Homo sapiens: one gene and its partners. The protein of the gene in region 2 binds, or shares a complex with, the protein of the main gene of each other region. Each region holds a gene or a part of one and is shown on either strand. Other genes may lie near its edges.

The links.
Region 1: PHLDB2 (region 2) and ERC1 share a complex: the UniProt entries of both Homo sapiens proteins name them as parts of the cortical microtubule stabilization complex.
Region 3: PHLDB2 (region 2) and PPFIA1 share a complex: the UniProt entries of both Homo sapiens proteins name them as parts of the cortical microtubule stabilization complex.
Region 4: PHLDB2 (region 2) and PPFIBP1 share a complex: the UniProt entries of both Homo sapiens proteins name them as parts of the cortical microtubule stabilization complex.

What each region holds. Positions count from the first base shown.
Region 1 is NC_000012.12:1,491,207-1,496,441, reverse strand, and holds the end of ERC1 (ELKS/Rab6-interacting/CAST family member 1), read right to left. Parts: 3' UTR 511-5,235; downstream 1-510. UniProt on the Homo sapiens protein: Regulatory subunit of the IKK complex. Probably recruits IkappaBalpha/NFKBIA to the complex. May be involved in the organization of the cytomatrix at the nerve terminals active zone (CAZ) which regulates neurotransmitter release.
Region 2 is NC_000003.12:111,854,308-111,862,265, reverse strand, and holds the start of PHLDB2 (pleckstrin homology-like domain family B member 2), read right to left. Parts: upstream 3,002-7,958; 5' UTR 2,690-3,001; intron 2,440-2,689; exon of another isoform or gene 2,388-2,439; intron 1,607-2,387; exon of another isoform or gene 1,450-1,606; intron 1-1,449. UniProt on the Homo sapiens protein: Seems to be involved in the assembly of the postsynaptic apparatus. May play a role in acetyl-choline receptor (AChR) aggregation in the postsynaptic membrane.
Region 3 is NC_000011.10:70,273,685-70,280,710, reverse strand, and holds part of PPFIA1 (liprin-alpha-1), read right to left. Parts: intron 2,097-7,026; exon of another isoform or gene 1,308-2,096; intron 1-1,307. UniProt on the Homo sapiens protein: May regulate the disassembly of focal adhesions. May localize receptor-like tyrosine phosphatases type 2A at specific sites on the plasma membrane, possibly regulating their interaction with the extracellular environment and their association with substrates.
Region 4 is NC_000012.12:27,519,277-27,527,220, reverse strand, and holds the start of PPFIBP1 (liprin-beta-1), read right to left. Parts: upstream 3,016-7,944; 5' UTR 2,856-3,015; intron 1-2,855. UniProt on the Homo sapiens protein: May regulate the disassembly of focal adhesions. Did not bind receptor-like tyrosine phosphatases type 2A.

The DNA of each region.
Region 1 (5,235 bases), on a different chromosome or scaffold from region 2:
TCGGCTCCTTTTACTCTTGGCACACACACTTTCTGTTGACCCAGCCTGCACGCCCCAGAGTCAGTGCATCAGAACGCGCCCTGCTGAAGCTTGAGTCCCAGTCCTGGGCAAAGCCCTCCCTTGGTGGCCGCCCTTCTGGCTCTTCTACCTTGGTACAACAGCAGCACCATCCCTCAGCGCTGGGCACCTACTCTAAGCTCTGGAACAGTGAGACCTGATACGGATAACCTGGCCCGGGGCTGAGGGTAGAAAGAAGGAAAAAGGGAACCGGGAATTGACTTTAAAAGCTGCAAACCCGGAGATCAGGCGGGAAGGGAAAGGAGGCTCATGCCCGTCAGGGCTGTGATGACTCCCACACCCACCGTAAATCCTGGGACCCCTGGCCCTCGGGCTGCCTGCCATTGGAGTTGGCCTCTTGGGCACTGCAGACCTTGTCCATCTTTTCTAGCATTTGGGGACACACCTTGCCTGGATGATCAGCTGGGTGACACTCAAAGAAGGACACAGCACGGTTTTTAAATAACTTTATAATTTCCTGGTGGATTTAGTTTGTGAATAAAAAAGAAAAAATGAACAAAGTGTTTACAATAATTATCAAGGCAAAGTTGAATATAACACAATTTCTTTGTAATGTCATTATCCTGTCAGTAACACAACTCCAGCAGGAACACACACATACAGCTGAAGGCAGCGGGTGCACGTGCATCCCAGACACCACCATGGAGGCTGCTACTGTTACCAAAAGGAACTCAAGCTACAAGGGGGCAGGTGCTCCTCAGCTCCTCCACTAAAGTGCAACACTTCTCTTCTGACGCATCAGGGAGCAGTCACAGGCCCCACTGGATATCCTGCAATGCCCGGCAGGTGCCTGGGCTAGTCCTGCGATGGGCCAGCAGGCCAGAGTGGGTGGTGCTGCCCTCAGGATGTGTAGCTGCAGTAGATGGATGCAATACTGGCGTGGTGTGGAATGAGGGGCTGGACCCAGAGGGCCTGCTTTGGCCGGGGTGAATTCTCTGGCTTCAGTAGGGTTCACTTCCTTTCCTGACAGTGGCTTCTCTGGGGTCAAGAGAGAGCCTGGGCCTAGGAGATCTAGGGTCTAAAAAAGCTCAAAGGGAAATAATTGAGGGCCTGAAGCCAGAAGGAACTGACATGGAGGACAGTCTGTTCCACCTGGATTGCAGGCTCCAGGCTGGCCAGTGCTCACCCGTGCTGGGTGGTCACTGGAAGAGATAGCACCAAGTGGGCAGGAGAGGTCCTGTGGCCTGCCAGGCAGGGGCTTCAGGGTCAAGCCCAGGTTACCATGCAGTATTAGGCACACTGAGCTAGAACCCACGTCGGGTGAGGGTGGTTATGGGGTCACAAACTGTGAAACCTCTACCCAGAGGTCCTGAACATGTATAGGAAAATCCTGGCACAACTGCGAGGCTCTGAGCCCCAGATTCTCGTTCCTTTTGCTCGGCAGGTGTCTCTTGCCCAGGCAGGCACTACCCTAAGTGTGCTCCATGCTTCCTAAGCCGCCAGCCCAGGGCCACCTATGCCAGCCTGGGAGGAGGGGAGTGTGGCTGCCCCATAGCTTGAATTCCTTTATTAACAAGATATTGGTTTGCATTTTTAAAACACAGCTGTTTAATTTTTCATTTCTACAACTACGTTTTAATCTTTTAATAATCTCAACAACAGACACAATGTAACTGCCCCAATTCTCTGAATCACACAGACAATATCGACAAGCAGAGAAAGAAGAGAGGAGGTGGGATGGGACAAAAACCCGCTCCCCCAAATCAATCCCTAAAACCACTTCTCCCCCAAGAGTCAGGAGAAGTACCTACAACAGGGCCACAGCACTTGCCAAACACATTGGAAAAAATCAGGAGACAGTTGGTTACATTTTTGACACTAAAAAGTCTGGAGACGGTTTTTGCTGAAGAGTAGGTGAAGATAGCCATTTTGTTCAGAAGGATTTCCCTGTAATGTATGTCTTTTCTTGCAAGAAGAGTAGGTGAAGACAGCCATTTTGTTCAGAAGGATTTCCCTGTAATGTATGTCTTTTCTTGCCTAATTCTTCCCTAATTTGCATGGGGGAAACTCCAGATCCTCTTTAAGACATTCCTTTGAGTGGTTCACGTCCCCTCCTGAGCAGCCCAGGGCTGGCAGTGATGGACGGGCGGCCTCACTCTGCAGAGGGTGCCTGCTGCATTGCAGTCTCTTCTCATCCTTCCTCCTCAGTTCCGAACCCAGGCAGGTGAAGAGGAGGCCAGGAGCAGATGTTAAATTACTGGTATTTGCTGACACAGGGTCCGCTGGGCTTGAGAAATGCCATGTGGTGTCACACTCCACGCAGCGGTCTTCTCTGCTTGGCTCTTTCCTCAAAGACTCTGAGGGTCTTGACACCGGGCCTACACTCAAGTAACATGGTCAACAGGAGGGCGGGATGGTTCTGGGAGGAACAGGACTCTGGCAGCAAATCCAAATGCCAGTGGATGGGCGGCTCAGAAACATTTATATTTTGGGGTGACACATGATGGTTGCCTCACAACCCTGACCCTCAATAGCGGAGGGATTAGTTCAGCAGGTGGCTAAGACCGTGTCTGTGATGACTTCGCCTTCCTCTTCTCTCACTCTGGGGGTGGGTGAGCCCGCAAGTTCCTCATGGAAAACCAGACTTCAATGGACAGAAATTGAGGGGCAAGTCACAATGCCCTTCTTGACACTGAAGGCGGCCTTGGGTCCAGTCTGCTTTACAAGTTATTTCTAAAACCCAAGTGTGAGGAAGTCTGAGAGCCACAGGTAGATCTTTAGATTGTAAAGTGCAAGGACAAAGGTTAAAAGGTTAGAGCTGAGATGAATTTGGTGATTCCCATCCATATATATATATATATATATATATATATATTTTTTTTTTTTTTTTTTAAATGGAGTCTCTGTCACCCAGGCTGGAGTGCAGTGACACGATCTCGGCTCACCGCAGCCTCTGCCTCCCAGGCTCAAGCGATTCTCCTGCCTCCTGAGTAGCTGGGATTACAGGCGTACGCCACCACGCCTGGCTAATTTTGTATTTTTAGTAGAGTCGGGGTTTTTGCCATCTTGGCCAGGCTGGCCTCGAACTCCTGATCTCAGGTGATCCGCCTGCCTCAGCCTTCCAGAGTTCTGGGATTACAGGCGTGAGCCACTGTGGCCGGCCCCATCCATATTTCTTAAACATGTTAAAGCCCGTTCAAAATTTTTCCATTTCAAATGGTATCAAAGTCCTTGCAAATCTCAATTGAGATACCTCATCAATGATTCAATGAGTACCGGGGGTTAGAGGTATATGAAAAGATGAGAAGCTCACACTGGGCTTCTTCAGTTACAAAACCCCGTTGGGATCACACCCACTCTTCTTCGTGCCCTCTTTATGGTGACATTGGTTTGGGGTGCAGATCTTTAGGTGCTAAAGGGCAACTAGACTTGCCGATGGAGGGGTTTGGGGAAAATTAAGGGCAACCTGCACTGAGTTTTCAAGGCTATATAACTTCAGTAGCAGTTGTATGCCCATATGAAACCATGACCACTAGGAGAGGGGCATGGAATGACAAGTCCTAGTGTGATGGGAGTGGGACATTTGGTTAAGTGTTGGTTCAATGATCTAGACTCAATGAGACACTCTGAAAGCTACAAACTGCATCCACTCTGCCCTACAGCACGAAGGCCACGTTTATTACTGAACTCCTAGCCAGCCTCCAGTGCCCAAGAACGGTCAAGAAGATTCCTTGCTGTTCACAGAGACCAGACAGATGATATCGGTCCCGGAAATGCTTCTTCTCAGAAGCAGTGTCACAGAGGGCTTCCTTCCATCCGTTTTTCTGGAGGGGAAGTGATGGAGAATGCTGAGATGAAGAGGAGAGTGACACACCCAGTGGCTGAGAGTGGCAGGCGCTGCACCTGATGAGAAAGTCCACGTGGGTGGGATCTGGGCCACCTGCTTGGAGAGAGCAGCTGGCCAGTGCCCGTGCCAGACCACTTGTTTAGGCATGGCCTCGCCTGCTGTCTTGGTTCCACCGTGGCCCCGTGAAGGCTGTTATCACACCGCAGTTCTTTACGTTATGGTGGATAAAGCGAGATGCTAACACTCCTGCCTTTCAGTGCTGGGAGCTTTCTACATGGTTTACGGGCACTGCAATGAACAGAATTGAGGTAACTGACCACAAACGACCACCACTTACTATCTAACCCCTGCACCCCTCTCTGGCCAGCCTGGCTATCAGGAAGCATCTCAGTAAGAGGTTTATGAGCAGAGTCCATTTAACCTTCGATAAGAAACGCTCCACAGTTTCCTCTCACAGGGAGAGGGATTGTTTCACAGCAGGGAGTAGGGGGAGCTGGAAATCTGACCATGTCAGTTAATGGGACAGTCAAGGGCTGGTGGTGGGAAGTTCCTGGACTGATGGGGCTGTGCTGACTCTACAGACTTTAAATTCTCTGAGTAAGTGGGGAAGGAGAGGAGAAAATGCAAAACAAAAACATCGAGTCCAGCAACTCTTATCAGGAGATGTGAGTGTCTGCTGGGTTCTGGTGGTAGAGGTGGTCAAAGAACTAGATTTGGGTTAAGTTCCTGCCTAATTATTTATGACTGCTGTTGTCTACGCTACGTCCTTAACAATGCCAATACCTTCATTGATTTGCAGTCTTGGGGTCAGCTTTCTGATTTGCAACATGAAGCTGGCTGAATTCCACGAGGTACATGCAGATGTCAGGAAATGGCCACCCACAAGTAGATACTCAGAGCCCCTCTAAGGGCAATAACAAACAGCAAAAATCCAGAATCATCAAATGGAATCCTACAGGCAAGCGGGTGACTGAGACCCCCAAACTCATGAATTCCATTAGGGAACTTTTCTAGAAAACACACCTTAAGATCGGGGAGGGGAAGGACATGCTATTTACTGCTTCAACTCCAGCAGGTATGTCTCACAGAATCCACTACATCTCTCCCTCACTGAGAAGTGGCCTTTTCAAGGATGGATGACTTGCACACAGTAGGCATTTCATAAATATTCTCTGAATGAAATAACCGAGGAAGGAATGTGTGTAGGAGGAAAAACCTTCATTTATGCTAGAAGAAGGTTCCAGGCAATGCACGAGGCTGAGGTTCAGAGAAGACGAGTCAAGGGCAAAGCTAGCAGGGTGAGTGAGGGATCACAACTTCAGCAGCCACTGGGCTGCAGGAGCTCAGGACACGGGTGCTGGCAAGGCAGG
Region 2 (7,958 bases):
AATGTACAAAGCCACTGTCACTCTAAGCCATCCACAGCACCATAGCACTGCCTCCCTGCTAAGGGTTGAAAATCAGGATATAAAGCCATAACGTTAACTACTCCTTTAAAAATATTTAAAAGGAGACCGGGTGTGGTGGCTCATGCCTGTAATCCCAGTACTTTGGGAGGCCAAGGCAGGTGGATCACCTGAGGTTAAGAGTTTGAGACCAGCCTGACCAACATGGCAAAATCCTGTCACTACTAAAAATAGAAAAATTAGCCAGGTGTGGTGGCAGGCGCCTGTAATCCCAGCTACTCGGGAGGCTGAGGCAGGAAAATGGCTTGAACCAAGGAGGCAGAAGTTGTAGTGAGCCGAGGTAACTTCTCCAATGAACTCGAGAGTCAACCCTTGCTTATAGATCTCAAAATGGAGCTTTGAAGAAAATAGGGAAAACCAGAGATTGGTTAATCACTTTGGCTTATTTTTTCCTCTCTTGCATACACAACAAACACACATGGTAAATAAAACGTTTCTGGAAAGGTTGCTAACGAGTTTCAGCTTGGTCACAGTTATTGAACGGAGGAGTAAGCAAGCTCTCAGTCCAATTTCCCAAGTATCTTTTCCTCCCCTTTTCAAACAGGGATCCAGGCGACACTCGTGGCAGACGATCTCAACACCAAAAGAACAGCAGCTGCCAGCTGCATAAAACAGATTGAGGCCTGCAAATTGACTGAAATGATGACTACTCTTAACCAGACATCTCATTTTTCCACTTCTGACAGGCTGAGATCTGCAAACCTCTGGGTCTCAAGAGATGAAGGCTACATTAGCCAACTAAGACGACAAACTCAACTCTTCCTTGTCATTAAATAATTTGCCAGTTATAAATGGTTTGGTAACTTTACAGAATTTAAGTACATGTAATGTTTAAATTTCCCCATTAAATGTAAGAGGCAAAGAAAATCCTTTTAAATAACTAAGCAGAGGATATGAAAGGGGAGCCAAGAATAGACAGAACTGTTACTTTTCAAAGAACCTTCGCTCTTTATTCAAACAAATATTTACACAATTGAAGGCAACGGCAAGAGAGATATAGCCATTCTGTTAAAATAGTGGGCAACTCTAACGGTTTATTTATCCCAAATCCGACAGTTCTGTTGCTAACCTACCAGGAACCAAGAATTCAAGTGTTCACAGGGCAAAAGTTTAACCTTCTGAAACTGTGGACCTCATTTAGATCTCTCCCAGCCGAATTCAAACGTTAGAATCCCAGAGACATATCTCGAACGCCCAAATTAAACCAAACTAGGAAGCTTAAAATTACACGTCCAATACTTGAAAACCTACATCTGTAACTTACACGTTCATATTACGAAGGGAAATGTGGCTGACAAATATTTACACTAAAAAGACTCCACATTTTTATGCCTCGTCTAGTTACACTCCCAGCTGTGCCTGGCTATGACTAGTTGTGCATTCTAGAGCTCTTTAGAGCTACTTCAGAGTTGCAGGATAAAGATTTCTAGGGAAGAGGGCAGGGCCAGGCGCCCGGAGGATTTCCAGCCACGGGTAGTTTACCGAGAGAAAAAGCTGCGGGCGTCGCTCCCTCTTTTACATAAGAAAGGTAAGTGAGGAACCGCGAAGCAGTTTGACTTCTCAAGCTCTTTCAAACAGGAAACCCCAACCCTGGGAGGGACAGCCTGTCAGCCTTTTAATTTCCTGGTGGTGGCGGGAGTTAGCCAGGTCCTCGGCGCTTTAATAAGTGATGACTGCTAGGGCTAAGTTATTAAGCGAACCAGCAAACGATTCAGCTGCGCCTCCGCCGCGCAGGGAGCTGGAGAAACAGAGGGTTAAAATACTCCCCAAGCCTTCCAGCTGCTATCTCTAGGGGTGCCGAGACGGCCACACTGTAAACTTTCAGTGGGGGGTCAAAGGCCAAATCGAAATCAGCCGCTTTTGGCGGTTAAAGCTCGTAGGTTCACTCTTGAAAGAAAGTGGAACTAGAAGCGCAGCTAGCCAAATATTTGCGGGGAGGGAGTCTTCTCTGAATCCCGCGCCCTACACCATCCAGCAGCGGACCTTCTCTTTCTCAGGGAGCTATCCCAAGGATCCCCATCCCTCTCTCCATGTGCATTCCAGAGTTGCTGGAAAAAGTTGCCCCCAGTTCCCCCACATTCTGCCTGTTTTCTACAATCACTCTGGAAGCATCTTCCCTACCAGACACTCCCTCCCCGGGATCCCCTCAACCGGAGATCTACCCAGCCCCCCGAGAGTCATGCACAACGGGGTTCGCCACCCCCACCCACCCAGCTGCGCAGCCTGGGCACTGCCGACCCCAGCCCGGGCTTTTGTCCCTACAGCCTGTAAAGAAGCAAAGAAACTCTGTGTCCCCGGAGCCCACTCACCGTCTCATCTTTCCTCCAAACCGCCGCTCTACGCTGGCGCCGCCGCCCTAGCGCCTAGCCTTTGCCCCCGCCCACCCTGTCTCCCTCCGTGAGCCCGCCGGCCCCTCCTGACTCGCGGTGAGCAGTCAGCGCGCCCCTCCTCGGCCCGGGCAGCCACTGCCTCCTCTCCGCCCCCAACCCTCCGCAGCGCAACCGGCGGCAACCAACTCGGCCGCGGGGGAGGCAGCGTCCCCGGGACGCACTCCTGGCACACGGAGTCGGCACCACCCCCTCCTCCCGGGCGACCACCGCCGCCTCCTCACCTGGCCATTGGTGCAGCCCGTTCCCGGCGGCGAGAGAAGGCAGGCGCGCTCCTTGCGCCACGCCACACCGTCGGGCCCCCGTCGGGTCCCCCTCGGGCCGCAATGGTGGGCTCCGCGCGGCTGGGTCCGGCACTCTTGACCCCCTTTGTAACCACCGCGGCGGGCACCCAGGGAGTTCGAGCAACGAAGTTGGTGACCTGCCCCGCTCCCAGGCAGTTTGCTGTTGGGGCTTTCACGGCTGCTGGAAGGGCATGGCTGTTTGCCCCATCACTGGGCGCCAGCTTCTCAAAGCTACGTTCGCAGCAACGCAGTAGGGACTTTCGTGGCAGGCTTTTTTTAAGAGCTGAAAGAAGGGCGGGAGGGTTTACGTCCTAGGGTGATGATTTCCTCACCAGACAGCGAAGTATCTATTGGGAAACTCCAGGTGACCGCACCTCCTTCCGACAGTTCGCCCCGGGGCAAGTTTACCAGCTGCGTCAGAAAGCAGGTTTGCAAAATCCTTGGAGAACGGCCTGAGCTAAGGACTGGGGTCAGGAGGGTTTTAAACTCATTCTGATTTTCTTGCAATCATATCTCTTGAAAGTTTTTATATTTTCCCCAATATTTTTCTGAGTTGCTATATCCAATGAAAACAATGCTGATGTAGAGGTCCACCAGCCAATGCTTTATTGGAAGTCAACGAATGAGACCGAGGGTGGCCCATAATCAATCTCGGCACGCGGGAATGTGAACCTCTTCCAAGGTCTGGGCGAGTCCCTAGAGTTACGCAGATGAAGGACATTGGCCCTCGAGAATCTCACACCAGCAAAGAAGAGCACAACGAAGCGCAAACTACTTATGATCATTGTGGCTTTGGGCAAGTTGTTGTAGCTCCCAGCAACAATTTCTTCACCTGGAGTGCAGCAATAAATGATACTGGTGCTGCAGGGCAGCTAATAAGCTTCTGAATAATATATGCAAAGTACTTGGCACCATGAGCAGAACTCAGTATACCGTCACTGAAGAAATAGCTTATTTAATGATTACACTTTTCATATGTGCAAGTAAAAGTTTGACTTTTAGGGAGAGCCTCACCTACGGAATGTCTTTTTTAAATTTCTTTTTTAATTATACTTTAAGTTCTGGGATACATGTGCAGAACGTGCAGGTTTGTTACACAGGTATACATGTGCCATGGTGGTTTGCAGCACCCATCAACCCTTCATCTAGGTTTTAAGCTCCGCATGCATTAGTTATTTGTCCTAATGCTCTCCCTCCCCTTGTCCCCCACCCCCCAACAGGCCTCAGGGTGTGATGTTCCCCTCCCTGGGTCCATATGTTCTCATTGTTCAACTCCCACTTATGATGAGAACATGCAGTGTTTGGTTTTCTGTTCCTGTGTTAGTTTGCTGAGAATGATGGTTTCCAGCATCATCCACGTCCCTGCAAAGGACATGAATTCATTCTTTTTTATGGCTGCATGGTATTCCATGGTGTATATGTGCCACATTTTCTTCATCCAGTCTATCATTGATGGGCACTTGGGTTGGTTCCAAGTCTTTGTTATTGTGAACAGTGCTGCAATAAACATACGTTTGTATGTGTCTTTATAGTAGAATGATTTATAATTCTTTGGGTATATACCCAGTAATGGGATTGCTGGGTCAAATGGTATTTCTAGTTCTAGATCCCTGAGGAATCGCCACACTGTCTTCCACAATGGTTGAACTAACTTATACTCCCACCAACAGTGTAAAAGCGTTCCCATTTCTCCACATTCTCTGCAGCGTCTGTTATTTCCTGACTTTTTAATGATTGCCATTCTAACTGGCGTGAGATGGTATCTCGTTGTGGTTTTGATTTGCATTTCTGTAATGACTAGTGATGATGAGCTTTTTTTCATATGTTTGTTAGGAATGCCGGGTTTTTTAGAGGAATTCTTTTCCCTGTCCTGAGTTTTTGCCCTGCAGAAGCATACATACACTGATCAATCCAACAGTTAAACAGTTAAGTGCTCCAGCAATGTTCTTTTCTCACCCACGTCATCTCTTTCCTCCTCTTTTTTGGATCATCCCCATAAACATACAATCATTTTATTTCCATTACCTTGGAATTTTTTTTTCTTTTCTTTTCTTTTTTTTTTTTTTGAGACAGGGCCTCACTTTGTCACCCAGGTTGGAGTGCAATGGCACAGTCATAGCTCACTGCAGCCTTAACCTCCTGGGCTCAAGTGATCCTCCCACTTCAGCCTCCTGAATAGCTGGGACCACAGGTGCAGACCACCATGCCCAGCTAATATTGAATTTTTTGCAGAGATGGGGTTTCACCACATTGCCCAGACTGTTCTTGAACTCCTGGGCTCAAGCGATCTGTCTGCCTCCGCCACCCTAAGTGTTGGGATGACAGGTGTGAGCCACTGTGCCCAGCCTCCTACTTCCCCTTTATCACTCACTTAGCCCCTGCCACAGTGGCCTCGTAGACTAGATTCCTAGGTAAATCCGTTCTATCTCAGGGCCTTTGTTCTAATTGCCCTCTCTGCCTATAATTCCCTCCTCCCAAGTATCTGCATGGTTCACTCCCTCACTTCCTTCAAGACCCTGTTCAATGTCACCGTGTTGCTCAGGCCTGCTCTGACCACTCTACTTAAAAGTTTAAAATGTGTTTTCCATACTACTTAAATTTACTTTTTGACAAAGTCACCACATTCTACTATATTGTAAAATGTACTTTTTAAATTATGTTTATTGTCTGTCTCTCCTCACTAGAATGTAAGGCAGGCAGGCAGAGAGTTTTGCCTGTTCTCTCCAGTGCTATATCCCTAGTGTGCCTACAAGGATACCGGACATGTAAATGGTGCTCAAGAATAAATGATGGCTTTGACCCAAAGCACTGTGTTGCAAACATTTCCTTGCCTCGAGCAATGCCAGAAATACACTTGACTACACAGACATCTTAGAGACAACCTTTCTCCCTTCAGGTCTAAGGAGAATGTGCACCAACACAGCACATTTAGAATGGCCATAATTAGATTGCCAATATTTATGTCTAAGAAAAAAATAGCTAAATTTATTGAGAGCAATAATTACTATTGTATACGTATCCGGTATTCTTCCAAATATAGGACAATATTAGTTGATGCGGTGAGAGTTACTGTTTGTTACTACTCCCATTTTATAAGTAAAAAAGGAATCACAGAGAAGTCAGTTGTCACTCAGGTAATAAGTTGGTAGAGGCAGAATTTGAGCACTTGTTCTTGAGTTCATTGTCTTTAATGCTACCTTCTACCTCTTTTCTAAGTATGAATGTTACTAGGGGATATTTCTGTATAATGAATAATTCCAAATTACTAGACAAAAAGTAATCCTCACTGGCCTCCCTTCACTGCCTTGTTTTATCTGCTAGCATCTCTATCTCTTAGGATAGCCAAGCTCCTAGAAGGCAAAGGGAGTCATTTTATTCATATTTGTATGAATCATACTCCAAGACTTATATATGGAAGGGACTCAAAAAGTAGTCATTGAATGTGACTTTTTCAAGTGACTAAACCCAGCAAAGTTTCCCATTCCTGATGAGTTAGAGTGGTTTTCAATAGCTTTCATAAGGCCATAGCAGCCTGAAGATAGACGAGACCACCCTGAAGGTGCAAGTCTTAAATTAGATAAATTCAGTCCAGGCTCAATGGCTCATGCCTGTAATCCCAACACCTTGGGAGCCGAGGTAGCAGGATTGCTTGAGATTAGAAGTTCCAGAGCAGCCTGGCCAACATGGCAAAACCCGTCTCTACTAAAAATACAAAAATATTAGCCGGGCATGGTGGTGCACCATCTGTAGTCCCAGCTACTCAGGAGGCTGAGGTGGGAGAATCACCTGAGAATTCGAGGCTGGGTGATCCATGATCGCACCATTGCACTCCAGCCTGGGTGGCAGAGTGAGACCTTGTCGCCAAAAAAAAAAAAAAAAAAAAAAAAGACAAATGCAGACCTCAACATCTATAGAAAGCACTCAATAAAGTGCAACTGTTATTGTTATTATTATATTACCAGACTTTCTTTTAGTAATGGTGATGGAAAGAAAGAAGAAAGAAAGGAAAGAAAAGAAGGAAGGAAGCAAAGAAGGGAGGAAGGAAGGAAGGAAAAAGAGGGAAGCGCGGGAGGGGGAGAGAGAGAAAGAAAGAAAGGAAGGAAGGAAGGAAGAAAGAGAGAGTCTTTCTACCTTTTCTATTTCCTGGGTTCTTTATAATAAAGTTTTCTGTTTAATCACAGACCAGAGTCCTGCCTGCGCTCTGCCATTCCTTATCACTAGAGATATTGTGTTGTAAACTAAACAGCAGACCTTTCTTGTTTGCCTCTCCAGGATCTGTAGTGGTTACAGTCCCTGATCTTACTTTCCTGTGTCCTTCACCCTCTCAGGTGGGGAACCTTAAAGTGTTGCACAGTGTTGAGGCTAAAGCAACTCTATCTTGGATGCTAATCTGCCATGCTGACTTTTTTTTTTCTTTTTACCCTAATTCCATGGAAGATTACCTGTTGACTTCTGATTAACCCGAGTTCTGGGAATTACTCTAAGATTTGTACTTTATCTACTGATACCTTAAATCCTGCCCCTGGGTCAAAACAACCTTGACCATAAATCCTGCCCATGGGCAGATTCACAGAGCATTCTTGCCTCTCCCCAAGGGGTCGACTTCAATTCTCCTACACATTCTTTTCCTTTAGTTTATGTGTCTTGACTCTGGGAGTGACAGCGTGGAGATGCACCATCTTTTTTCACAGCCACTGGGGACATGGCTTCTGTTCATAAGTCTCTATTAAATGTTTCTTTCTGAGAAACTGGACTTGTCAGCCTCTTTCTTTGGCTTTTCAGCTTCTGTGGTCTTTGGGAGTAGGTTTGTACATACCTGCTCACTTTGAAACACATACAGTGATATTATGAATTATTTATGTTATTCCATTTGTAATTATTTTTGCTATTGTTCTCTTTTATTAGAAAAGATCGGTTGGATTTGATTAACTTTTTATGTCCTGAATCTGTATATTTGCTCCTTTCTCTGCAATGATAGCCTAACAAATCTTTGTAGCTATTAACTCATTTCAATCTTACTGCAGTTTAACTCATGGAACAATTGTTTGTGCTGAAGTTCGCTTTAATATTATGATGATTTAATGAATCAAGAAGTTTCTACTTGCAAAGTGCAGTGGAAAAATCATTGACTGTGAAGTAAGGCAGAACTGGGTTTTAAGCCCTGATTCAGCCCCTTTGCTAGCTAATATGGTTTGGCTCTGTGTCCCAA
Region 3 (7,026 bases), on a different chromosome or scaffold from region 2:
CTATAGTCCCAGCTACTCAGAAGGCTGAGGCAGAAGGATTGCTTGAGCCCTGGAGTTTGAGGCTGCAGTGAACAGTGATCACGCGCGCCACTGCACTGCAGCCTCGGCAACAACAGGGTGCCTGTCTTTTTCTTTTTCCCCGAGACGGAGTTTCGCTCTTGCCACCCAGGCTGGAGTGCAATGGCGTGATCTTGGCTCACTGCAACCTCCGTCTCCCAGGTTCAAGTGAGTCTCCTGCCTCAGCCTCCCAAGTAGCTGGGATTACAGGCATGTGCCACCATGCCCGGCTATTTTTTGTATTTTTAGTAGAGACAGGGTTTCACCATGTTGGCCAGGCTGGTCTCGAACTCCTGACTTCAAGTGATTCACCCACCTTGGCCTCCCAAAGTGCTGGGATTACAGGCGTGAGCCACTGCACCCAGCCACCTGTCTCTTAAAAATTTTTATATACATATATATTTATATATATATATGTATGTACGTATATATATATACACACATATATACACACATGCTAGCTCATGCCTGTAATCCCAACACTTTCGGAGACTGAGGCAAGTGGATCACTTAAGTCCAGGAGTTTGAGACCAGTCTGTGCAACATGGCAAAACCCCACCTCCACTGAAAATACAGAAATTAGCCAGGTGTGGTGGCACGCACCTGTAGTCCCTGCTACTCAGGAGCTGAGGTGGGAGGATCGCTTGAGCCCAGAAGGCAGATGCTGCAGTGAGCTGAGACTGCACCACTACACTACAGCCTGGGCAACAGAGCGAGACCCTGTCCCAAAAATATACACACACACACATCCCCCACACACACACAGGCCGGACACGGTGGCTCACGCCTGTAGTCCCAACAGTTTAGGAGGCCAAGGCAGGAAGACTGCTTGAGCCCAAGAGTTCAAGACCACCCTGGGCAACAGAGAGACCCAGTCTCTAAAAACTAAATACACACACACACACACACACACACACACACACACACACACCTAGACACATACACAGAAAAGGTCTAGAAAATACGGAAAGGAGCACAAGAGACACATAGGACATGATAAAAGCCTAATGTATATCACACCATTGCACTCCAACTTGGGCAACAATAGCGAAACTCCATCTCAAAAAAAAAAAAAATGCCTAATGTACACAAAAATGGAGGCCCTCTGAGTGAAGATGAGTGGAAAATAGGAATATTTATAGAGAGAAGAGCCAAAACTTCCAAAATTGATTAGGAACCAGGCCACCAATACAACAAATACCAAGTTTTGCTAATGCCTGAAGCAAAGAAAATGTTACAAGCCACCAGAGGCAGCTTCAAATCCTGGTGTGAGGAATGAGTAGATGGTGAGATCTTGCTGTGTGTCTGATTAGTCCTTTCTCTGCCTTGCCTGTTTGAGCTTCAGCAGAATTGAAAATGGCTGGCAGTAAGGCTGGGAAGGACTCCAGAAAGGCCAACAAAGGCAGCTTCCCACTCACAAGAGAGCCAATTTGCAGTTCCTGGTGGGCCGTATTCACTGACACCTGAAATCTAGGACAATCAGTCCTGGACGTGTGGGCGCGACTGCCGCTGTGAATAGCACAGCCATCCTGGAGTACCTCACCGCAGAGGTACTTGAACTGGCAAGAAATGCGTCAAAAGACTTCACAGTAAAGCATACTACCCCTCATTACTTGCAACTTGCCATTCGTGGAGATAAAGAATTGGGCTCTCTCTTCAAGTCTACAATTGCTGGTAAAGGTGTCATTCCACACATCCACAAATCTCTAATTGGGAAGAAAGGACAACAGCAGACTGTCTAAAGGCTGCCTGGATTCCTTATTATCTCAGGACCCTAAACACTCTACCAGCTGTCCAGTGTGGCTGATTCCAGTGAACTATATCTCTGTGAAAAACACAATTCTGCCTTTCTGTAATTCTACTTGAGCAAGTTGGAAGTTTAATTAGCTTTCCAACCAACAAATTTCTACATTCAAGTCTTAACCATATTTGTTACTGTGGCTTCAAAGAAGCTATTGATTCTGAAGTAGTGGGTTTTGATTGAGTTGACTGTTTTCAAAAAACTGTTTGGATTTTAATTGTGATGGAGAGTTATAGTAACAAACATTTGGTTTTGCACAAACATTATTTCCACTCTGGTGGATAAACTCAGTAAAAGTCATATCCTCTCCAAAAAATAAAAATAAAAAGCAACCAGAGGGGAAAATAAAAAGAAGTATTACTTCAAATGGGACAACAATAACACCAAAAGCTGACTTGTCAAGAAAAAGGAAGCGAGCTAAAAAAACAATGAATTCGCTGCTACAAAATGGTGCAAGGAAATGACCACGATCCCAGTATTCTATACCCAGCAAAATCATCCTTCAAAACTGAAGGCAAATTGGGCACAGTGGCTCACACCTGTAATCCCAGCAGTTTGGGAGGCTGAGGCAGGCAGCTGCTTGAGCCAATGAGTTTGACCCCAGCCTGGCAAACATGGTGAAACATCACATTTAAAAAAAAAAAGGCCAGGCATGGTGGCTCACGCCTGTAATCCCAGCACTTTGGGAGGCTGACGAGGGCAGATCACCAGGTCAACAGATAGAGACCATCCTGGCCAACATGGTGAAACACCTTCTCTACTAAAAATACAAAAATTAGCTGGGCGTGGTGGCACGTGCTTGTAGTTCCAGCTACTCGGGCGGCTGAGGCAGGAGAATTGCTTGAACCCGGGAGGCGGTGGTTGCAGTGAGCCAAGATCACATCACTGCACTCCAGACCGGCGACAGAGCGAGACTCCATCTTAAAAAACAAAACAAAACAAAACAAAACAAAAACTAAAGGCAAAATAGAAAATTTTCAGGCAAACAAAAATGACAATTCATTATCCACAGATATGAACTCAAAGAAATACCGTAGAAAGTTCTTCAGGGAAAAGAAATATAGGCTGGGCGCAGTGGCTCACATCTGTAATCCCAGCACTTTGGAGGCTGAAGCAGGCAGATCACTTGAGGTCAGGAGCTTGAGACCAGCCTGGCCAACATGGTGAAACCCAGTCTCTACTAAAAATACAACAATTAGCCGGATGTGGTGGCATATGCCTATAGTCCCAGCTACTCAGAAGGCTGAGGCAAGAAAATCGCTCAAACATGGGAGATGGAGGTTGCAGTGCGCCAAGATCGTGCCACTGCACTTCAGCCTGGGCAACAGAGCGAGACTCTGTCTCAAAAAAGAAAAAAAGAAAAAAAAAAAACAAGAAATATAATCCCCGGCAGAAACATGAAACAACAATAAAGAATGAAGAGCAACAAAAATGGTAACTAAGAGGATAAATCTAAATAAACATTAACTGTACAAAATAATTATGATACTGCAAAAGTATATCTAAAATTAAAGTACATAAACTTGTAAGATGCAGCTAAAAGCGTGTAGTGGCTCACGCCTGGATCCCATTGTTTTGGGAGGCTAAGGGGGGAGGATCACCTGAGGCCAGGAGTTGAAGACCAGCTGGGGCAATACAGCAAGACGCTGTCTCTATTTTTAAAAATAAATATAAATTAAACTGAAATATATAAAACAATGACACAAAAGGTAGGAGGGAGTTAAATCCAGTTCAAGTATCTAAGGACTTGACCCTGGGAGACACAATGAGACTGTGCCTGGAAAAAAAAAAATATATATATATATATATATATATCTCAATCAAACAAAAAAAAAGCAAAAAAAAAAAAGTAGAAATTAATGCAATAGAAAACAAATGTAAGTAGAAAAAAATGTAAAGCCGAAAGTTGGTCCCTTAAAAGAACTTACAAAATTGACAAACCCCCAACAAGACTGATTAAGAGATAATATATGAATTACTGATATCAAGAATTATTAAAAGGGAACATCACTACAGATCTTGCAGATAATAAGGATTACAAACCACTTTAAACTTACAAATTGGAAAGTCTGGGTGGCCTGAACAAATCTCTAGCGGGGAAAAATGCTTTATCTAAATAGACACATGAAGAAATATTCAAAATCCTACATCTACCTATAAAATTAATTCTAAAATTTTTCCTTCTCACAAGGAAAACCCTGTACCAGCTGGTTTTGCCAAAGAATTATTTCAAACATTTAAGGAAGAAAACACAAATTTCGTAGGAACTCTTCTAGGGAGTAGAAAAAGAAGGAATACATTCCACCTTGTTTTAAGAAACCAGCATAACCTTGATACCAAATCCCAACAAGGGTACTGAAGGAAACTGAAATTATAAGTCAATCTTTCTCGTGAATATAAATGCAATAATCCTAAACAAAATACTACCAAATATAATCCAGTAAAAGGAGAATACATCAAGATCAGGTTGGAATTATTCTACAATTGTAAATTTTTTTTAAAAGGGAGGTGCTCTTTCTCAGGAGCTCCTGAAGTTGCTTCCCCAGGCTACAAACAATATGCAATTAAAAAAAAAAAAAAAAGCAAGGCGCAGTGGCGTGCGTCTATAATTCCAACTACTTGAGAGGCTGAGGTGGGAAGATCACTTTAGCCCAGGAGTTCAAGGCTACAGCGAGCTATGATGGTGCCACTGCACTCCGGGCTGGGTAATGGAGCAAGACCCCATCTCAAAAATAAACAAACAAAAACAGTTAAATTCCCACATAACAGAAAAATCACATGACTGTCTCAAAAGATGCAGAAAATCCATGTTAAGAAATTTAATACCTGCTCATGGTTTTTAAAAAACTCTTGGCAAACTAAGAAGAGGAGAATTTTTACATTTTGATAAAGAATATCTACAGGGCCAGGTGTGGTGGCTCACAGTGGTAATCCCAGCACTTTGGGAGACCAAGGTGAGAGGATCGCTTGACACCAGGAGTTGGAGACTAGTCTGGGCAACCGAGTGAGTACCCTTTTCTTAAATTACCAGATCTCAAGACAGACTATATCTATGGGAATTTAGACATTGTGCTATTTGTGCAAAGATGACAAAAAGATCAAAGGAGCAGAAGAGAGTCCAGAAACAGACCCACACACTTACAGTCACTGGACTGAGATGACACTGCATGTAGTACACTGGGGAAAGAATAGTCTTTTAAGAAATTATGCAAGGTCAACTAGATATCCATTTAAAAAAAGAAAGAGAGACTCTTGGCCCCATCGCATACCATAAACAAAGTCAATTTCAGATGGAAGATTAAAAAATAGTTTTTAGAAGACAATGTAGAATATCTCATGAACTTGACCAAGCAAATTTCTTAAACAGGACACAAAGAGCATTAAACATTACTGAAAAGATGGATCAACTGGGCTACATTAAAAATTTTACACTTCTATGTATCAAAAGATACAACTGAGAGAGTGAAAAGGCAAACACAAGAGTCTAAAAACAATCTGTCATGCACATATGTACTCAGAATATAGAGAAAACTCCTTCAAATCAGTAAAAAACAAAACAGACAACCCAATCAACAGATGGGCAAAAGATAACCGTTTCACAAAAGACATCCAGGTGGCCAGTGAACACAGGTAGAGATGCTTTACCTCTGCATGTTCCTGGCCATCAGGGAGCAGCAAATTCAGACCATACTGAGCCACCTACCAGCTAACAGCCACCAGAACAGCTAAAATGTAAAGACCCAACAATACCAAGTGCTGAAGAGCATAGGAGCAACTGACTTCTCATACATTGCTGGGGTAGTACAAACTGTCACAACCACCACTTTTGGCACTCTCTACTGAGGCTGAACAAATGCACACACCATCATTTGCATTCCACTTCTTTGTAGAAATCCAACAGAAGTGTACACATATCCTCCGGCCTGGGCAACATGGTAAAACCCCACCTCTACAAAAAATACAAAAATTAGCGGAGGGTGGTGATGCGTGCCTGTATTCCCAGCTACTTGGGAGGCTGAGGCAGGAGAATCGCTTCAACCTGGGAGGTGGAGGCTACAGTGAGCCGAGATCATGCCACTGCACTCCAGCCTGGGCAACAGAGTGAGACCCTATCTCAAAAAAAAAAAAGTTTATAGACATCTGCACCAAAAAACAAACAATATTAGGGGAGCACGTGTAAAAACTGGAAACAACCCCAAATGTCTGTGAGCAGTAGAAAGAATAAGTTCTGTCTGTTCGTGCACGGGATGACCAGAGAGCAGGTGAGAATGAGCAAGCTGCATCTCACAAACATGATGCTGACGACAGAATGAAGAAGCAAAACATACAGATTATTTTACTTCACTTAAACAAAGTCAAGAACAGGCAAAAGTAATCAATGGTGAAAGGTCAAGACCTTGGTTAGCTCTGGGGGACAACTACTGGGAATAGTTAGGAGGGGACTTCTAGGAAGCCTGATAATGTTCCATTTCTTGATCTGGGTGGTGGTATGCAAGTGTGTTAACTTTGTGAAAAGTCCACTGAGATGTATACTTACGATTTGTGAATTTTTCTGCTGTATGCTATAGTTATGTATATTTTTAAGTACACTCTAACTTGCCTCCACAATGTGCCAGGAGCACAAATGCACTTCCTGGACTCATTATCTGGTCACACTACCAGCCACCAAAGATGAACCAGATGCCAGGAAAGGGAAGGGTCCAAAACAAGTTTACTTAATAGTTTCCATTTTTGAAAGGCTGGAATCAGGTGCTCAGGTGGTAACGTGAACCGTTGGCATCATCATGTTATCCACTGAACTAGGCATTCCCAGGCTGCTACACTGAGCAGTGCCAGAAACAAATCACTGAGCAACCATGTCACCAGTGTGTGTGACAACCTCCACAGCCTGCGACTAACTGTACAAAACTCCTGTCACTTCCCTGACATGTCTTGTGTGCCCATTCTTTCCAAAACCTACCTTATTAAGTATATTAGTATTTGATATACACTTCAATACGTGTACCTTAAATTACAAATACAATAAAATCCTGGTAAAACATAAATTGGCTACTTCTTTTAAAATTGTAGTAATAAAATTCAACATAAATAAACTTGGTAATTTATAAGATTGAAATAAGAAAAATCTTAATGATTCTTTAATCCAACAAAAAAGGAACATAGAGCGC
Region 4 (7,944 bases), on a different chromosome or scaffold from region 2:
CTTTCAGTTAACAGTTTGAAAATTATGCTGGTTTGGGATATAAACGAAAAGTTAATTTTAATGTAACAAATTATCAACATAATCTAAATTTACTTATACAAATATTTTATGAATAGGAAAGGTTTTAAAAGAAGTCAGCTAGTCAGTAACTGAGGGGAAAAATGACCTTGTTCTGATTTATCTCACGGTGGAACAGGGAGCTACAAAAAGACTACATAAACAGTTAATTAACTGTCCCTCGGTGAACTTGTTCCCAAAAAAATGTCAGTGATGCCCTTGAAATTAGGCACTATTGATCTGGAACTTCAGTGTGTCCTGGATTTCAAATCAACATTTATCCATTAAGGCCAGATGACCTTAATTTTTATTTTATTTATTTATTTTTGAGATGGAGTTTTGCTCTAGTCGCCCAGGCTGGAGTGCAATAACGAGATCTCAGCTCACTGCAACCTCCGCCTCCTGGGTTCAAGCGATTCTCCTGCCTCAGCCTCCCAAGTAGCTGAGATTACAGGTGCCCACCACCACACCCGGCAATTTTTTTGTATTTTTAGTAGAAATGGGGTTTCACCATGTTAGCCAGGCTGGTCTCCAACTCCTGACCTCAGGTGATCTGCGTGCCTCAGCCTCCTAAAGTGCTTGGATTACAGGTGTGAGCCACCAAGCCTGGCCGACCTTAATTTTTAAAGTTGCTCTTGGAAATATGACAGTTGTTGGTCACAGGAATTTAACCAAAAACTGATCCTACCTTTCTCAATAACTCAAACATCTTTTAAGTATTCCGTGTTTTCCTACACCATATCTGCCTCATAAACATGGACTGAGAAAGAGAAATATTGGTTTAAATTAAGTATGTAAAATTACTGCTATTATTCAAACTGTGAATCAAATTTAGAGTTTTGGTATATTCAAGTCCCTAAACTAGGACTAGTTTCTTGGAAAGAAAGTGTAAATCTGAATTTGGCACATAAGGATAACATCCTAAAGATACTCTTCTTTACTGAACCGTCTGGCTTTTGCAGCCCCATCTTTTGGTATTACAAATGCAGTTGGAACACTATCAGCCAAGGAACACTACCGTGAGTTCACATTAGCCCACAGGAACTCCACTCCACAGCTCTATCCTACTGAAAAAGTACACTGGAAAATACAGTATGTTTTATGTACTCCCCATAGAACATAAATAGAAAAGACTTGTTCACCATTATTGCAGAGCCATTTGCAATTTCTGTGTCTTAAGCCAAAATACAAACCAAAATTAAAATGTTGTCTTTCCAATAAAGCGAATTTTCCTTTCTCAAAAAGCCTGCTATTTTATCCACTCTATTTAATTTTTTCAGGAACTAACAACAATACAGACCCAGGTATGTCATAAACAACAGCACAACCAAACACTTCTTTCTAGTTCTGAAACCTAATGATCATTTGGCTAGAAAGATAGAGAACCCCATCTATAGTCCTCTATCCCTTTTCCTGACTTGGGTTTACTAGACCTACTGTTGTGGCTTCTTTCTTTCTCCATCTCCTGGAAATGCCTTTTCCCTTCAGGGGCCTGGGATACGGATTTTGACTCACAATGAAGTCCACTCCCATTTCCTCCAGACCTGGCAACAGTAGGATCCTCACTGCTGAGGAGGAACTTCGGTGAAGGAAAGGGGAAACTTGACTCAGGAGTCTCAGCGCTTACTTTTTTTTTTTTTTTTTTTTTTTCCTTCCTGCTCCAAAAGAGAGCCTTAAAGCACTGATGAGAGGGTCCTGAATCGGTGTATGGAGTCAATTTCCCCGCCCCCTCGAGAAAGTCAATCACACCCAGTTAGTGACCTGGGCACACAAAATCTCCACATAGGAAAAAGACAGGGTTTGAAATAGGAAATAAACAAAAATCAGAATTCTATTCTTTCACTTCTTAAAAGTATCTTTTTCCTCCCGCAATTGCTTTCTCAAAATACCAAACTTGGACTTTGAAATCAAGTTCTTTTTCTATTGCTCTCCGCAGTTCTTACTGAAAGCAAGGATTTGTTTTGGTCCCACATGTTGAAAACTTCACGTCCCTATAATTAAGAGTTTATATGCCACGCCTTCCACCGCGTTTCCCTGTTAAAACTCCCTTCTCTAAAAAAGATCCCTGAAAACACAACTACCAGCTCGCCCCTCAAGCAGCCACAGGAAACAGATCTGAAGATTCTCAGCAGCCATCCTAACCTCTCCAGATATAAAGCTGGCAGCTGAAGGGATTTCTCGGTTAAAATGAGTGAATACTAGTTGCAGTTTTAGAAGTGTGCCCCCAAGAGACGAGTTTTCCCGCAAGCTCATAATTAATAAACACCCCAAGTGAATTTCTCACATCCTGACTGGATTACACAAAAGGATATTTTACATTGATATATAAGACTAACATTGATATTCTTTTAATATATAATAGGCCACAAGGAGACAAAAAAATACAAAACTTTTTTTTTCTTTTCAACGAGCATAATTTTTGAGTCGATGATCCATAATTTTTTGTGGCATTTTTAAATGCCTCAATACACACAGACAGAGAGACACACACGCCCCTCTGGTTGGGGTTCTCAGGTATTACCGGGAGCCTAGGGTGTGGGGGTCTAAGGATACAGACAAGACCTAAACGTCCAATCCTGGAGTATTCTTCACGTACAAGCTCGGTCCAAGCCCCAGGAGTTAAGCCCTACCCCTCCACCCCCACCACCCCCAAAAAGTGCCCGTTCCCATTGGGAAACAGGAGTGAGTTGCACAAGGAAATCGACCCGGGGAAGAGGAGGAGCAGCTGCAACAGCCAGCTGCAGCCACACAACGGTGCCACTTCCCTCCCGTCTGGGAGTGGAGCAAAACGCCCTTACCTGGGGGGTGGAGAGCCGCCGGCACTAGTTCCAAAAGTTCTGGTCCACCTCCTCTCGGAGTTCAAAGCCCCAGCACTCCGGCCCGGCCGCCAGCTCGCAGCACACGAGTCCTTCCCCGTCCTTTCCCCACCCTGCCTGCACTACACCATGTCAGGAATCCGGGCAGGCACCGAGCTGGGAGCTGACATCACTCCCAGTTCCAGGTACCTCCCCCTCCCACTGCCGCCCTTCTCTCCTCCCTCCCTGCAGGAATCAGCCAAAGAGAGTCAGCAGTGGGGCGGGGCCGGGGGCGCCTGCGCGCCCGCTGATTGGAGCCGGGGAACGTCACTCAGAGGAGTCCACTAATTTTATGCATTCCTCGCTGAGCCAGACTAGGGCTGGAAGTGGGTGGATGGAAGAAAATGCTGCCCTTCCTGCTATCTCTAAGGAACGGAGATAATCCGATGGGGAAGAACCTGGCGGGTCGAGTTTTAAACTTTTCTTGTTGTAGTTACTGAGATTCCAGATCAGAAACGAAACTAACCCACGCGAACCCCCTTTTTAAGGAGAAACAATTGCCTCGGTGTCACAGGCACACGGGCATGTACAAGCCCGGCGGCGCGTGGTGTAGAAAATGGCTAGCTTTAAGCCATGCAAATAAAGGAAAACGTCAGCTCACCCTTCTGCCCTTTTATCCTGGGACTGCTGGGTGTTCCCTTAGACGGGGAATGTAGAACTTCAAAAGCACTTCAGAAAGATTTGGAAGAGACTCCTGAAAACGGTGACCGAGCTTTGAATTGTTAAGTGGTGGTGTTGTCAGCCATGTGGCTGCTGTTGCTTTTAGCGATGAAAATCACACCACACAAGCTTCTCGGGCAAGTAAAATTGAATCTCTGAAGCAAGAAAAATGTATTTCCCCGTTTAAAGACCTTAAGGCTGCTGTTTCAATGCACACACTGAAAAGGGTGGAGGAAGGAGGGACCTCACAATTGAGTTCCACAAACCACATGAGAATAATTACTGTAGAATGGAACCAATTGTAGTGGCTGAGCTCTCAATTAAGAATTAACTAACGTTTATCCTTGACAGATATCATGCGGTATAATCCCCTTGGCTGACAGAAGAAAAAGATTCTCAGAAAATGGTTCTTTCAAGGCAGATGCTGCTTACAGGCAGACCTGAATGGTGAAAAGCAGCTTTATTTGTATGAGATATAGGTAGCATATAACCCACCATCTTCTAAAAATATAGTGAATTAATAACTTTCTCTTTTTTTTCTTCTTTTTTTAAACAGGTCACTCTGCCACCCAGGCTGGAGTGCAGTGGCATGATCTGGCTCACTGCAACCTCCTTCTCCTGGGTTCAAGTGATTCTACTGCCTCAGCCTCCGAGTAGCTGAGACTACAGGCGCCCACCACCACACCCGGCTGATTTTTGTATTTTCAGTAGAGACGGGGTTTCCGCCATATTGGCCAGACTGGTCTCGAAATCCTGACCTCAGGTGATCCACCCTCTTCGGCCTCCCAAACTGCTGGGATTACAGGCGTGAGCCACCACACCAGGCCTCATTGTTTTTTGATTGATGACATGCCATACATTTACCGATCTGCCAAAAATTGTAGAGGGATGCACAGAATCCAGCATTGTGTCTTGTTTAATCTTCTCAATCATCCTGTAAATTGAGTGTTACTAGCCCTATTTTAACGTAAGGAATCAAAGGCTCAGCAAAGTTATGTAAGTAAATTTCTCCAAATCAGCTAGAACTTGGATTGAAACCGAGGTCTATTTGACTCCAAAGCCATTGATTTTCTTTCTATATCTCAAGTATTGAGTGTCCATAATTTATACTTTTTCAAACAATAGAATGCTACAAGAAATCCACAGGCTTGGGCCACTGCTCTCACAGACCTACTTTATATAATTACCATCTTGTTGCTTGTCAGACCTGCAGTATTCCAAACTCCTGACTTGAATTTCTGACTCCAGTTTCCCCCAGTTCTAATTATTTCTCTGTACCACTCACTACCGATGAGTTTTCTAAAATGTTTGGTTTTGTCATCAACATCTTCCCCTCTAAATCAGGTCCCCCTTTCCCTGCAATTCTTATCTAGCCATTTAAAACTCTCTCTTATCCTGCTTCTTACCTTTCCCAGCTTATCTCCCACTTCGCTCCCAGGAAACCCTCTCTGTAGTCAAACAGGTCTACTCACAGATCCCTGCTTCGTTCTCACCTTTCAGCCTAACCGAAATCCCCACTCCTCTGTGGGTTAAGTCCCACCCTTCTCTCAAAGCCTAATTAAATTAAAGTCCTTGTCCTCTGCCAAGACTTAGCTGTGTGTTACAGTGGACAGAGAAAAGGACTCAAGGTTCTTGGCCTGGCTCTGCCACTTAGCTATTGGGTAACTTTGGGCAAGTCACTAAAACATCCATCCCGAATCTCAGTTACCTCCTCTTTAAAATAGGGCTGACAATACCTATGTTAAAGGTTGTTATAAGGATTGAGATTGTACAGATGTGTAAACATGTGGTTATACATGTCCAGTTAAATGCCTTTCCTGCCTTCCCAAACTCTGAAGAGCAAGCATCTTGCTTATAGGACCTCTTTATATTCCTTATACCCAATTCAAGGAAAAGGCTCAATAAAAATATAGGGCATGAGAAAATAGATCATTGTATCATTTCTATTCTCTTCCATTCTTTAAATGCAGTCTATCCCCAAATAATCTCTCAGACAAAAACTTTAACTGTTTCTTCTTGTTCTTTTTTTCCTCTCTCTTTCTCTCTTTTTATGCCAGAAGGGCCAGAGCCCTTCTGTTCTCCCACACCCCTACCCACCGTTCGTTCAACACCCTTAACTTCCTCAGATCACTTCTGGACCAACTACTTCACCTGTCTCTTAATTAACTACTGACCCTTCCCTGTCCCACAGTCAGGGACACAACTTGTCCATCAGTGTCTGTTGCCTGCCTTGCTCCCAGATGCCTTCAAACGGAGGCTGGGTGGCTACCAGCCATTCCTCCAGCCCTAGTCAGGACGGCTGCAGCCAGGCTCACATTTTTCCAAAACTACAGCCAGCCACAGGAGATGGGGGAGGGAATGTCCCACCCCCACAGAGATGGCAGGATAGAAAAACAGGAAGTCGCCTCCCATCCTTTCTGCAGCTGGAGTGATAACAGCTGCCATCCAGAATCCAGAAAACAAAAGACTCAAAGGGAAGGCTGAAAACGGGCCAGGTCTGGAGCAGTAACATTCAAGCTAGAGGTTACAGAGTGGGTGAGGGAGGAACCAATGGTTGAGATTTCAGCCTCCTTCTACCTCCCTTTAACCAGAGTTACAGCTCTTTTATCTGCTCTACATTTAGGCTTCACCATGATACTTCATTTTTTGAAGACAGTGTAACCCTTAAATAAACATACTGAAATCACTGGCCTCTGGGTGTCTTGGGGAAACTCCAAAAAAATCAGGATAGTGCAGCAGAAGCAAGACAGGATGCCTGATGAGCAGGTAGCCAGAACTTACTCCTCACTATCCCGGCTCCTGGCTGGCTTAGTGCAAATGATCATTTATGATTCCTATGATTTCAACGCTAATTTATTCTGTAGGTCTAGATATTTTCTGCCTAGTTATTCCTATGACTAACCTTACCTTTGGTAACTTTTTGCCAAAGAGTATCACTATTGCGGGGTAGGGAGCAAGAGACACTGCAGAGCAGGAGAACACCTGCTCAATTAGAACTTGAAATGGATCCTAAAAGTCATTTGATGCAACCACTATTAAAATGCAAGAAACCCTTCTTCAGCATTCCTTACAGGTAGCTTCCAACCCCTGCTTGAACTTATCTGGCAACCAGTAACACACAAAATAAGCAAGCAGCCCACCATTAAAGATCTTTCTCGGTTGGGCGTGGTGGCTCACGCTTGTAATCCCAGCACTTTGGGAGGCCGAGGTGGGCGGATCACCTGAGGTCAGGAGTTCGAGACCAGCCTGACCAACATGGAGAAACCCCGTCTCTACTAAAAATAGAAAAAAAATTCGCCAGGCGTGATGGCGCATGCCTGTAATCCCAGCTACTCGGGAGGCTGAGGTGGGAGAATTGCTTGAACCTGGGAGGCTGAGGTTGCGGTGAGCCGAGATCGCACCATTGCACTCCAGCCTGGGCAACAAGAGCAAAACTCCATCTCAAAAAAAAAAAAAAAGGGATCTTTCTCATATCCATCTGGATCCTGCTTTACTGACTTTCTCCCCAAAGACATCTGTCTTGTGTCTCATTTAATCCTCACAAACATCCTGTAAGGTAAGTGTTATTAGCATCATTTTGACATGAGGAATCACTCTCCAGGGTTATACAAGTAAATTGCTCCAGATTCCCCCAGAACTGGGATTGAAACCAAGGTCTATTTGATTCCAAACCTATTTTGTCTTTCTGTGTCTGAAGCATTGATTGTCCACAATTTACACTCTCACTTCTGCCCTTTGCAGTAACAGAACAAGCTGACTCTTTAGTTACACCATCCCCAAATCTGAGCAGGCTTGAGGACACCTCCCTTTCTTTGGATGCAGGTACCAGAAGAGGCTCACCCTACTCATCAAATCCACAGCATTTGCCTGTCTGGTCTTTACAGGCTTCCAGCTGCAGCTCTCTAAAGCACAACCCTGATCACTCCTGACTCTAAACACTTAAATGAGTCTCCCTTTACCAAGGAACAAAACTCATCAAACTTTCTTGACTGGTGTCCAAAAGCCTTCACATCCTTGCCCCCAACTTACCTTTCTGAACTTATTTTCGACTCTTCTTCATATGCCCACACTGCATGCACTGCATGACTTTGCACCCATATTTCCTAATAATACATCCTCACTGTGATTTTTGCCTGTTTCTACAAAAATCTACCTCACAGTGTTGTTGCAAGGATCTGACAAGATGTCATATGCAAGATGACAGAGCACCTTGCCTGACACATCATAGGTGATAAGCAAACATATTTTCCTTTTTCCTACAACATAAAACAATTGTACTATAATTTTTATAGGTGCCTTATGTTCCTTTCTGGCTCCAAGTTTCTTACAGTCCTCAAGAACAGAATGCTAATTTATTTCATCTTTACATCCT